Linked DNA regions of Homo sapiens: all the other regions are linked to region 2. The links come from fine-mapping of genetic effects on gene expression. A gene starts in region 2. Each other region holds a variant in brackets. All regions are shown on one strand. Distances are from middle to middle. Region 1 has its middle 37 kb from the start of LINC02870. Region 2 holds the start of INPP5A (inositol polyphosphate-5-phosphatase A). Region 3 overlaps INPP5A (inositol polyphosphate-5-phosphatase A).

What was found.
Region 1: its variant is fine-mapped to the expression of INPP5A in fibroblasts (GTEx, PIP above 0.99).
Region 3: its variant is fine-mapped to the expression of INPP5A in tibial artery (GTEx, PIP 0.96). The same link has a PIP of 0.9 or more in whole blood.

Annotation. Positions count from the first base shown.
Region 1 is chr10:132,480,241-132,484,362 of GRCh38, reverse strand. No RefSeq gene overlaps it. Among named protein-coding and RNA genes, the nearest start is that of LINC02870, 37 kb to the right of the region's middle. RefSeq lists an enhancer at 3,392-3,991. The variant G/A (reference allele first, on the strand shown) is at 2,052.
Region 2 is chr10:132,535,652-132,539,773 of GRCh38, reverse strand. INPP5A (inositol polyphosphate-5-phosphatase A) reads right to left here and starts at 1,987. Exons shown (of 16, transcript NM_005539.5): 1 at 1,603-1,987. The coding sequence starts at 1,677. LOC107984282 (a long non-coding RNA gene) reads left to right here and starts at 2,851. Exons shown (of 4, transcript NR_158224.1): 1 at 2,851-3,048. RefSeq lists an enhancer at 1,037-1,086 and a silencer at 1,867-2,966.
Region 3 is chr10:132,605,094-132,609,215 of GRCh38, reverse strand. INPP5A (inositol polyphosphate-5-phosphatase A) reads right to left here. Exons shown (of 16, transcript NM_005539.5): 2 at 1,260-1,301. Among named protein-coding and RNA genes, the nearest start is that of INPP5A, 69 kb to the right of the region's middle. RefSeq lists an enhancer at 612-1,113. The variant C/G (reference allele first, on the strand shown) is at 1,723.

The DNA.
Region 1 (4,122 bases), 55 kb after region 2:
GCGGTGGCGGGTGCCTGTAGTCCCAGCTACTCGGGAGGCTGAGGCAGGAGAATGGTGTGAACCCGGGAGGTGGAGCTTGCAGTGAGCCGAGATCGCGCCACTGCACTCCAGCCTGGGCGACAGAGTGAGAATCCGTCTCAAAATAAATAAATAATATATTAATTAATTAATTAATTAAGTTATACGACATATGGCTTTAAGGTATAGACCTAGGAATGGAATTGCTGCATCATATGGTAATTCTGTTTAACTTTTTTTTCAGACAGGTTCTAGCTCTGTCACCTAGGCTGGAGGGCAGTGGCATTACCAAGGTTCACTGCAGCCTTGATCTCTCAGGCTCAAGCGATCCTCCAACCTCAACCTCCTAAGTAGCTGGGACTACAGGGCTCTGTCATCACGCCTGGCCATTTTTAAATTTATTTCTTTGTAGAGACGGGGTCTCTCTATGTTGCCAAGGCTGGTCTTGATCTCCTGGGCTCAAGTGATCCTCCCACCTTGGCCTCCCAAAGTGCTGGGATTCCCGGTGTGAGCCACCGAGTTCGGCCTGTTTAACTTTTTGAGGAACCACCAAACTGCTGTCCACAGCTGCAGCCCCATTTTACATTCCCACCAGCAATCTGTGGGGGTCCCAATTCCTCTACACCCTCACCAACTGCTGTTATTTTCCTTGTATTAGGACTACTTGGATTACTTTTTGCAGCTGTCCTCACGGGTAGGACCTGGTGTCTCATTGGGGTTTCTGTTTGCATTCTCCTAACGACTAATGACCTTGAGCATCTCTTCCTGAGCTTATTGGTCGTTTGTATATCTTTCTGAGGAACATGGCTATCAAATACTTTGTCCATTTTTATATCGAGTCACTTCTTATAATTCATTATTATTATTGTAACTATCTTTATTTGAATTATGTTTTCTATTTGCTGATGTTAAGAAATACAATGGCTTTTTATGTGGATCTTGTAAGCCGGCTACCTTGTTAACTTTCTTTTAGTAATTTCTCTACAGATTCATTTTGTTTTTGTAATAATCATTGCCTGGAATTTATGAATTATGTTCTTCCTTTCCAATCCTGGTTCTCTTCACTGCTGTTCCAGTGAATGACAAGGTGTGAGGCTGCCCTGCGTTAAACCTCGGCTGGATCTCTGCCGTGCCGCTGAGGGGAGAGTATTCCCACCTTGGCTCTGGATTTTTTTTTTTTTTTTGACGGAGTCTCACTCTGTCACCCAGGCTAGAGGGCAGTGGTGCAATCTCGGCTCACTGCAAGCTCCACCTCCCGTGTTCACGCCATTCTCCTGCCTCAGCCTCCTGAGTAGCTGGGATTACAGGCGCCCGCCACCACACCTGGCTAATTTTTTGTATTTTTAGTAGAGACGGGGTTTCACCGTGTTAGCCAAGATGGTCTCCATCTCCTGACCTCGTGATCCGCCCACCCCGGCCTCCCAAAGTGCTGGGATTACAGACGTGAGCCACCGTGCCCAGCCTGGGCTCTGGATTTTTAAAGGGGATGCACCGGTGTTTCCCCATTTTTGGTCTGCTGTAGGTTTTTGGTAAGTTTCCCATTTCTAAGTTTGAAAAGTCTCTTCCTTTTTTCCTGAGTGTGTTTTGAGTTGTGTTGAGTGATTTTCGGCATCCACTGGGATGAGCCTGTCTTCCCCTTTAATCCGTTCATGCGGTGAATGAAAGTTATCGATCTTCTCGGTCTAAATCACTCACATTCCTGGGATAATCCCAGCAAATCCCAACACAGTCATGAGTGTCATCACCTTTTAAAAATAGACGCCGTGAGTTCAGTGTGCTAATGATTTGTTTAGGGTTTGTACGTCTTTGTTTGGGAGTGAGATTGTACTAAAACATGATTTTTCTTGGACTATTCTTGTCTGGTTTGTTTTAAAGATTGTAATGGCTTCACAATGATTCAGGGAGTGCTCCCTCCTTTCTACTCTCAGGAAGAGTTTGTAAAAGACTGGAACGTTCTGTTCCTTGAAAGTTTGGTAGAACACATCTGTGCAACCCTGGGCAGGGGAAAATAAGAACCCTGTGAGTTCTTAGTC[G/A]GAACAGATCCCTCTTACAAAACAGAGATGAATAGAAGAAAAACAAGCAGAGGCTTATTAACATGTGTGTTTCACGTATGTGTGGGAGATGCCTAGGGCATGAGTCACTCTCAACGAGGCGGCTTTGAATTCCAGCTTGTAGAGCATCTTTAACAAAGAGCGATAGATTTTCAGAGAAGTTCTGGGCAAAAAAGAAAGACTTGGAGTCTCTGTAGGCAGGAACTTGAGGAAAAGCGAATAAATGTCAGATAAAGGCTCCTTCATAAAGCTTGTTGGTGCAGATTATTCTGGAACTATCTTCAGGTGCAGGTGATGAGGGTCTGAAGCTGTCTTCAGTGGTTAACCTTTGTTCTCCCTAGTAGAGGGGGGCAGGATTCCTTCGTCTTTGTAAGCCCGTGTCCTGTGTCGAGGGGGGACCGGGAGCTCTACCTCCGTTGCTCCTCGCAGAGGCCCTCAGCCCCACAGGCCTGCTTTTCAGGAGGCGCGTTCTGGTCTCCCACACCTGTCAACCTGAGTTTTCTTGCAGGAGATTTTAAATCAATGGTTAAATGTCTTTAATGGTTGTAGAATTATTAGGTCATCTCTTCCTTCTTGAATCAATTTTTTGTCATGATCTTCTGCGAATGTATTCATTTTCCACAATTTTCTGGGAATGTATCCATTTAAAATCTTACCTGTTTTGGAAAAGATTTCAAACGGACTGGTTCCTGATATGTTTATCTTTAAACTTCTGCTTGTGTTTGATGATTCTCCTTTTCATTCCTAATACCGACTCTGTTCTCTCTCTCTCTGTTTTTGCCAGTGGCGTCTGTCACCTTCATCTTTCTAATAATCAGCCAACATTTGTCTTTGATCCACCCGATTTGCCTTTTATTTTCTATTTCCTGAGTTTCTGCTCATATTTGTATCTTTGTCCTGCTTTTATTGCTTTAGCCTCTTGTTCTTTTTGTCACTTACGTTGAAGGCTTGGCTCATTAATTTCCATTGTTTCCTTCTTTTAAATCTGTCTAATTTCTGGAGTGAGTTAGTTGCACTTTGCAATATTCCATATGTACGTGGAGAGTTTCATGTACTCATACATAATAGGCAGTGCACCCACTGTAATCTGGTTCTAAGCATTTCTCATTTCTATCATGTGTTATTCTTTAACTCACGGCTTTTAGAAGTGTATATTTTATTTTCCAAATAAATGGTAATTTTGGAAGGTTCTACTTCTTTTTTTTTTTTTTTTTTTTTTGAGATGGAGTCTGGCTCTGTCGCCCAGACTGGAGTGCAGTGGCGTGATCTCGGCTCACTGCAAGCTCCGCCTCCCAGGTTCAAGCAATTCTCCTGCCTCAGCCTCCCGAGTAGCTGGGACTACAGGTGCCCGCCAGCACACCTGGCTAATTTTTTTTTTTTTTTGTAATTTTAGTAGAGACGGGGTTTCACCGTGTAAGCCAGGATGGTCTCGATCTCCTGACATTGTGATCCACCCACCTTGGCCTCCCAAAGTGCTGGGATTACAGGCGTGAGCCACCGCGCCCAGCCCCTGAAAGCTTCTTCTTATCTCAAATTATTAAGATCAGTTGTAAGATCTCATGTTGACTGTTAGCTCGTTGCATCCTGGTCAGGAAACATTGTTGCTACAGCATGAACTGACTGAAGTCAGCTCACTCACTTCCTGTGGGATGTGCAGCTACTTTTCCCAAGTGCTGCATGTACTTTGAGAACAGGAAGGCCCCTTGGACTGCCAGGGTGCCAAGCCTGGGAGGGATGTCCATTCATTTGTCCACATAGCTAGGAAACCCTACACCACAGCTCAGTGTCTCAGTAGGGCACTGCTCGACGACTCAGAAGGATGCCAACTTCCCCGGTGCCCCAGGCAGGGAGAGTGTCTCGGCTCCAGTTGACCTAGACTCTCCTTCAAGTCTTGCCCAAGCTCTCCGACCTTCCTCGGTCTCCCTCAGGGCAGCCTGCACTTCCATATACGGAGGTTCTCATCGTTTCTTGCCTCTCTGCCTGCACTTTTTTCTGCCATCTACACCTATTAGCTGACATTTGTCTGTAAAGAAGAGCCTTCCCTTCTCCCCCA
Region 2 (4,122 bases):
GGAAACCACGCGTGCATCAGTGGCACACATCCGTCATAAAGCTGGTGCGGTGCCCCACTGTTCACCTAGGGAGGGAGGGAGGGAGGGAGGGAGCGTCCGTGGCTCCACGGCCTCCATCTGGGCCACTTGGAGCCTCACTCTGCTTTATTTGGGTTGGCAGCAGGAGTACCAACAGCAGGGTGGCACCGTGGCTGAAACGCCAAACTAGGTCAGACCGGCCTGCCTCTGGGGAGCTCCCAGTGCGCCCTGGGCCTCAGCTCCCTGGTCTCTCCAGAGATGGGGGCACCCTGGGATCCTGGGTGGGAATGAGGCTTGGGTGGGAGGGGCCCTAGAAGGTAAAGGCCATAGGCAGTCAGCATCCCCTTTCTGGCCCTGAAGAGCTTCTCAGCATCTTTTTCTTCAATAAACAAGAAATATAAAGTCCTACAGTGCTTTACAGACTTCCCTTATTTACGAACTAAAGAGATACTAAGTGGCAGGGTTAAATGGGGGCACCCTACCCTCTGGCCCTGCAGGGACAGACAGACAGTGAGGCCGGCACCCAGGCATCCAGGAGCTGGGGCTGACAGCCAGAGTGGAGGGCCTAGGCTCAGAGGACAGGGGCCAGGGGTGGGAGTCAAGGGTTAGGGTTTGGGAATTCTGCAGGCTCAAGGCCCAGGCTTTAAGACCAGGATTCAGGATTCAGGATTCAGGGGCAGGAGCTTGTTGGAGGAAGGGGCCAAGGATGGGATCTAGGAACCAGAGTTAGGGGCAGGGTCCAGAATTGGGTTTGGGGCCTGATTCTGGAACCAGGGTTCCAGGTTCAGGGGTCAAGGACAAGTGTTCAGGGCCATAAGCTGGGGCCTGAGGTTGAAATTCAGGGTTCAGAGTCAGGCTAGATTGGCTTTAGAGGCAAAGGGCCACAGTATGAAGGCTGGGATTCTAGGGCTAGAATTCAGTGATTGGGGAACAGGGACAGGAGGTTGGGGCCACAGCCCTGTGTCAGAAGTTCCTGGGTTAGGGTTTGTGGTTATGTTTCAGGGTTTGGGGTCCAGGGCTCAGGGACCAGAGACAGACGTTTGAGAGCAGGTTCTGTAACCAGAGTTCTGCAGTCAGGATTTGTGGTTCCAGTGACCATGGACCTGGGGTTCAGGGCCAGGGTTGGGGATGGGCATTCCAGGGCCAGGGTTCTGAGGATTCGGAAATCAGGGCTGGGGCTGGGTTTGGTGCGCACAGACCCGGTTTCTGGGGTTTGGGTTCCAGGAACTGTTAACAGGGGTTCTGACAGGGTTTTAATATTGGAGTTTCGAGGTCAGGATTTGCAGACAGGAGTTCAGAGGCAGGGTCCCAGGGTCAACGGTCAGCTGCTGGAGTCTGGAGGATGGGGTTCGGGGATTCAGGGCCCAGGTCTTCAGGTCTCGGGCTTGGGGATCAAGACAGGGGTCTGGGCTCCCAGACTTGGGAATCAGGACAGGAGTCTGGGGTCCCGGGTACAGGGATCAGAGTCTGGGGCCTCTGGGTCTGGAGGTTCACGGTCCAGGGTCCAAGGCTTGCAGTTCGGGACCCCGGGGTCAGGGTCGGGGGTTCCGGGCTTGGGGCCTGCCGCCGGCACGGGGGACTTACGTCGTCGAAGAGCGAGCCCACGTTGGCCGTGACCAGCAGCACCGCGGTGCCCGGGGCGGCCGCCTTCCCCGCCATGGTGCCCGGGCGGCGCGGGCGCTGGGCTGGGCGGCGGCGGCGGCGGCCGCTTCCTCCGGGACCGGCCGGCCGGGGTCTTCGCGGGGCCGCGGGGCGTCAGCTGCGCCGGGGGGCGGCCCCGGGGCGCATCGCGGGCTCGGCGGGTCGGCCGGGCCTGGCCGGGGCTCCGGCCTCGCGCTCGCTCGCTCGCTCGCTGCTCCGCGGCCCCGCGCCCGTCGCTCGCCGCCGCGCCTCACAGCGGCCCGCGCGCAGCCATTAGATCCGCTGGGAAAGTTCCCGCAGCCGCCGCCGACTCAGGCTGAGGGCAAGTCCCGCCCCGCGGAGCCGAGCCCGGGGCGGGGCCTGGGCGGGGCGGAGCCTGACTCGGGGTGGGGCCTGTGCGGGGTGGAGCCGGGCCTGGGGCGGAGCCTTGCTGGGGGCGGAGCCTTGAGGTGCGGAGCCTGAGTTGGGCCTAGATCTGAACAGAGTGGGGCGGGGCCTGCGGGGGGCGTGGCTTGTGCGGGACTTGGTGTCCTTGTGGAGGCGGGGCCTGCCCCGGGGCGGGGCCTCCTTTCGGGGCGGGGCCTACGCGGGGCGCTCTTGCGACCGGCGGCCTAGTACTGGTCGCTCCCGGAGGGCGCTCCTGTCAGTCAGGCCCGCAAGAACGCCGCGCCCCCGCCCCGCCCCCCGCGCCGCGGCTGCGCACAGACTCCGCCCTTCGCACTTCTATGACGTCACGGCCCTGCTCCGGCGGCGCCTCTTAAAGGGGCCCTGGGTTCCGGGCGCCGGCGGCGGGTGCGCTCTCTTGCGGCTCTGAGGGGATGTTCCAGCCCCCGCGCGGCCGCAGTCGTCCAGCCGCGTGCCGGGCGTGCGGGGGAGGGGAGCCCACCGGGGCGGCGGCAGTCGCGCCTGCAGGGGCCGGGCCACGCGCGCCCGGCTCTCCGCGCAGACGGAGCGTGGACCGTGCAGCTTCCCGGCGCGTCCACCCGGCTCCCTGGCCGCGACCTCACTCACGAGGAGCGGCTGCGGCCCAGAGAAGACGGAGGGGAGGCGGCGTGAGGCCAGGCGCATCCTGACGTCGCGGAGGGCTCCGGCCCGGGCCAGGCTGGGTCTCAGCGCGGGGCGTGCAGGGAACCCTCGCAGGGACGAAGGGGGCTCCAGGGGAGGGGGCTGGTGCGGGCCCAGGAGCGCAGAGCACGGAGGAGCAGCCGGCTCGGCGCGGGCCCCGGGGCAGCGATGCTGATCCTGGCCGCCGGAGGGGCCAGAGCATGGGCTGGACCCTGGGTCTGAGGCCGCGGGGACACAGCCGCCGTGAACCGGGACATGCCTGTAGATGGAGGAGGAGAACCACATTTGTCATCTTAAAGCTTCCAGTAGCTACATTTTTTAAAGGTAACAAGTAATAGCCAAAGTTAACAATACGTTTTACTTAACCCAATAGATAGATACATCATTCAACATGTAACCAGAATTTAACAACCTCAGTGAGATTCCTTCACAGGAAGGCTTTGCACGGGCACCTGCCTCTTGGCAGCAGCTCACAAGGCCGCTTCCAGTGCTCAGCAGCCCTGTGTGGCCAGTGGCCACCATGCGGAGCAGGCACTCCGGAGGATTTTGTGGACACAGATTTAGGGGCGGTCAGGGCCTGGCAATGGGCTCTAGCGAGGCTAGCCTCCAGCTTCTGAGTAAACCGCCAAGGCAATGCCCAATGACATCAAAAGGGGCTTGTTCTGTTCTAGGAAGACACCTGCTGCCAGGGCGGGGCGGCAGGAATGGTGCTGCAGGCTCGGGCCCCAGGCCTGTGCTGAGGCCGCATCACTGGCTTGTGTTAACACCCCCAGGGTTCCTCCTTACGGCCACCGCTGAGCAGGACTCCAGCAAAATCCATTTGATGTATAAACCAATGTCTACTTTAGTCAGTAGGTGCCTGCTACAGACTGAATTCCGCCCGCCCCACCCCACCCCACCCCGCAAATTCATGGGTTGAAGCCCTAACCTCCAATGTGACTGTATTCGGAGGTGGGCTAGCGGGGGTAATTAATGTTAAGTCGTGCAGTAGGGCTGGTGTTTAATGTTAAGTCGTGCAATAGGGCTAGTGTTTAATAGAAAGGGCTCAGTGCTGTCCCCACCCTTACATGTGCAAAAGAAGTGGCAGTGTGAGTGCACAGTGGGAAGCTTCACCCCAGCCAGCCACAAACCCTGCACCAGAAATCCAACGCTGCTGGAACTTGATCTTGGATTTCCAGCCCCCAGAACTGTGAGAAGTAAAAGTCTTGTTTCAGCCTCCCAGCCTGTGATATTTCGCTACAGCAGCTGAAGCTGACTGATGTAGTCGCTTATTTTTCTTTTTAACAAAATCAGCACATGCTAAGGGTACCCTTAGTAGAAACCAAATGTGGGGGTGTCACTGATCCCTGGAACGTGCTTTCTGAGAAGGGACATTGCCTCCTCACTTCTCCCCGCAGG
Region 3 (4,122 bases), 69 kb before region 2:
TATATGTTTTCAAAAGGGAAAGATGTCTCTCATTTGCACATCTGACCAAAGACTCTACGGAGAGAGATTTATCAGGTCCCTGTAGAACAATGGCTTCCTCACCACATAGGTGCTAAGCACACACATGCGCACACACGTGCACACACACGCCGTTGTCCCTATGGGGGGACTTGGATGCCGGCTACAGAGCACCATTGCATGCTGGGAGCCTCACCACATGGGAGCACTGGCAGGCAGGACACAGGCCCGAGGGCACAGAGGTCCCCAGCCCTCCTGGCTGTCCCAGCTCCACCTCTGGCCCAGCACCTCAGGCCCAGGTCGGGCCACCCCCCAGGTCCCACACCCCCATGCCCTCACAGAGGGCCCCTGGGCCTCCACTCTGGCCTCCCCAGCCCATCTCCAATCAGCAGCCAAACACACCTGAAACAGGATTTCAGTCCCGGGCTCAGCCCTTGCGTGGGTCTGAGCATGTGAGCAGCTCCACCGTCCAGGCCACCCCATCCTGAAGCTGACCTCACCACCAGCCCCTGGAGCCGAGCCTGGCCACCGTCATGCCCATGGCCACGTTGCCCTCCTCGCCTGCCTGGCCTCCCCCATGCACCCAGTCCTCAGAGAGGCCTCTGGCGCCACCCCACAGGCACACATGCTCGGCCACAGGCCCCAGGTGGCTCCTTCCATGAAGACCTGCGAGGGCACCAGCCTGTCTCTTCACAGTGGCATCTGCAGCGTCCACACCAGAGCACAGCACAGTACCGGGCTCCATAAACACCGGCCCCATATTAGACAGGGGGGTCCGTGCCTCGGCCTGGCAGTGCCAGCCCGAAACCCTCCAACCGGTCGCCTCCCCCAGCCCAGCACCCACTCTCTGCACAGAGTGCGCTGCACGGACCGGACCTGGTGAGGAGCACACCCAGCCTCGCTGCCAGCTCTCCACGGCCCCACTGGGGATGCTCACCCAGCCCTGGAGGGAGCCCCCAGGTTCTCTGATTCTCTGAACCCCGCGGGGAGCGGGGAGGGAGCCGGAATGTGAACAGTGAGCCCGAGGAGGATCTGGCCAGGCTCACCGGCAGGCGGGCAGTGGACCGACTGTGACACAGAAACATGTTGCCCAGCACAGGCAGCGGAGCCGAGAGACCCAGCCACAGCCCAGGCCTGCGCTCCCCATAGACACACCAGACTCCATGGAGGAATGCCAAAGCAAAAAGGCACCTTATTGGCTAAGTAATGAATCCAAAAGAACACGTTTCAGTGGTTCTTACCTGGTAAAATTCCCGAAGCCAGTTCTTCTGCAGGTTTTCTGGCTGTAAATTAAGAAGAAAAAGAAAAGCCAGTCAGACCAATGGCACAGCCCTAAACAGAGCCAGGACAAGCTCCTGTGAAGACAACGTGGGGCAGGAGCAGAGGCGCAGCCCGGGCCCACCCCGCATGGAGGAGCTCCACCCGCACGGGGAAACCCCAGGCCCACGCGGGGACCCCGCTCTGTGTGGGGGCTCCGCTCTGTGCTGTCCCAGGGACATGGTGCACGATGCACTCTGTCTCAGGAAAGCTCGGGCAGCGTCGCGCAGCCCCCACACGGGTGGCGAGGAGGGGAAGGCTCTGTGTTGCTCCAGCCTCCAGCCTCCCAGGGAAGAGACGGCTCAGCCAGTAACCCAGCTTCAACAAGCAAGACGGTGGCACCTTTCCACACCCGCCCCTGCCTGAGCCAAAGCCCCTTCACAGGCA[C/G]TAGACAAAGCTGAGCTTTGTGGAGTACAAAACATCATGGTCGCATATGGCATTTCTGTGTGTTTGGGGTGAAGAGCAAGGGGCTTTTATAGAGTCCGTCACAACTGTCAGAATCTTCAGAAAGCACTTGCTAGAGCCATCAACAGAAAACCTACCACATGCCACAGGCGTGCACACACGTGCACACACGCAAGGAAACTCCAGCCCCGCCAGAGACCCAGGCCCCAGGAAGCTCCTGGACAGAATCGGAGGAGCTAAGCGCAAGCCTGAAAATGCCACTGCTTCAGGAGAAGGGACGGCCCAGTCGCTCTCCACCCTGACCGCTCCGCTGAGCCCCAGGCCACCTGGCTGCTCCTGGGCTCTGTGCCAGCTCCGGCCAAGGGCAGCACAGCCATTCAAACCCAAGAGGAGGGAGGTCACCGCGGACGAGGCTGAGCGCGAGCACTCAGCACAAGCCGCCCACGCTCAGGAAGCACCCCAGCTCCAACATCGCCCACCGTGAGGGGACAGAGTCAGCATCTAAAAGGGTAGAGTTTCCATTTTGCGAGAGAACAAGTTCTAGAGATCCGTGCAACAACGTGAATGTACTTAGCACTAAGGAACTGCACACTCGGAAACGGTTAAGGTGGTAAATTTAATGTTGTGGGTTTTTGCCGCGATTAAAAACAATAAACAAGGCCCTGCCCCCGCTCCCATCGGGACTAAAGCCCCTGCCCTGGTCTCAGCCTCCGTGGCCGTGGGCATGGGGCCAAGGCGTGCAGGCCGCCAGTGCAGCTGGGCCCAGACTCCGCGCCCACGCAAACACAACAGCATCGCAAGGCTGGCCACACACCAGGCGCGCTCCTCCGTTCACTTGCTGACGGGTCTAAGAACCCTAAAAAGCAGGAAGACTGAATTTTAGATAAATTAATGAAAAATAAAAAACCTGACAAGAAACAAGAGCTTCACAGATCACAGGACCGAGCCGAGAACACCCTGGCTCCAGGCTTCAAGGACACACAACCCCAGCACACACACACGCGAAGGGAGAGAATCGCCCACTGCGGCTCTGAGCACCCCCATGCCCTGCCCTCTGGGTCCAGGGACCTCCTCGTGGGACGCACGCAACCGCCCCAGCAGGAGGGGAGGCCATCAGCCCACGCCACTGTCCCGCCACTGAGGACCCGGCAGGAGGGGAGGCGACTGACCCACGCCGCTGTCCCGCCACTGAGGACCCGGCAGGAGGGGAGGCGACTGACCCACGCCGCTGTCCCGCCACTGAGGACCCTCAGCCCACGTGGACAGCCTCCCTTGGCCCCAGCTCCTACCAGCAAGTCCCCATCGAGGGTCCCAGCCCCACATCCAGCTGCAGCTGCGTGCCCAGCAGCCCTGCCCAGGAGCCACCCTAAACACCAAACGCACAAATGTGACAGCGGACACCTGGACACACCGTTCACTGTGTGCACCTCGCCCCAGTAACACGCGCTCCAGCCCAATTCATGGGTCATGACCTCATTTAAACCGTGGATATGACTTCCCCCAACATTGACTGTGGATCCACTAAGGTTAATAAGCCCAGACAGTCCTAACACGGTGCTCTAAACAAAGACATCCGTGTTTGCTGACTGTTTATGAGGAGGCACTCAAAGGCTGTGAAATAATTAGACCAAAAGTCTAAATGAAAGATGAGAGCAAAAACACTCCAAAGAAGGAAGAGAAGAAACGTGAAAAAAAGACAAGGCCCTCAAGGCCTTCAGTTCTTGCCTTTGGCACACACCCCAACACTAGTCGGGGCCACTGTGACGGCCACGGTGACCATGGGGCCCTGCCCAGGGGCCACTTTCTGGCCCGCGTGGCGCTGCTGCGTCTGCCTGGCTGACCCCAGCTTGGAAGCTCCCAGGGCCTCCTGGGCCCCATCCCACCATCCCACCATCCCACCAGCCTCCCTTGGCCTCAGTGCCACTGTGTCACTTCCAGGACATCCCCCAGGGGATCCACGCCCTCCCTGTCCCCTCCCCATCCCCAGCCCCTTCCCCATCCCTCCAAGGGATCCACACCCTCCCCATCCCCTCCCCATCCCCAGCCCCTTTCCCATCCCTCCTGGGGATCCACTCCCTCCCTGTCCCTTCCCCATCCCCCAGCCGCTTCCCCCTCACTCCTGGGGGATCAATGCCCTCCCCATCCCCTCCCCATCCCCAGCTGCTTCCCCCTCACTCCTGGGGGATCCACCCACTCCCCATCCCCAGCCCCTCCCCCACTCCCTCCTGGGGGATCCACTTCTTCCCCATCCCCAGCCCCTCCCCCACTCCCTCCTGGGGGATCCACTTCTTCCCCATCCCCAGCCCCTTCCCCACTCCCTCCTGGGGGATCCACTTCTTCCCCATCCCCAGTCCCTTCCCACTCCCTCCTCAGGGATCTCCC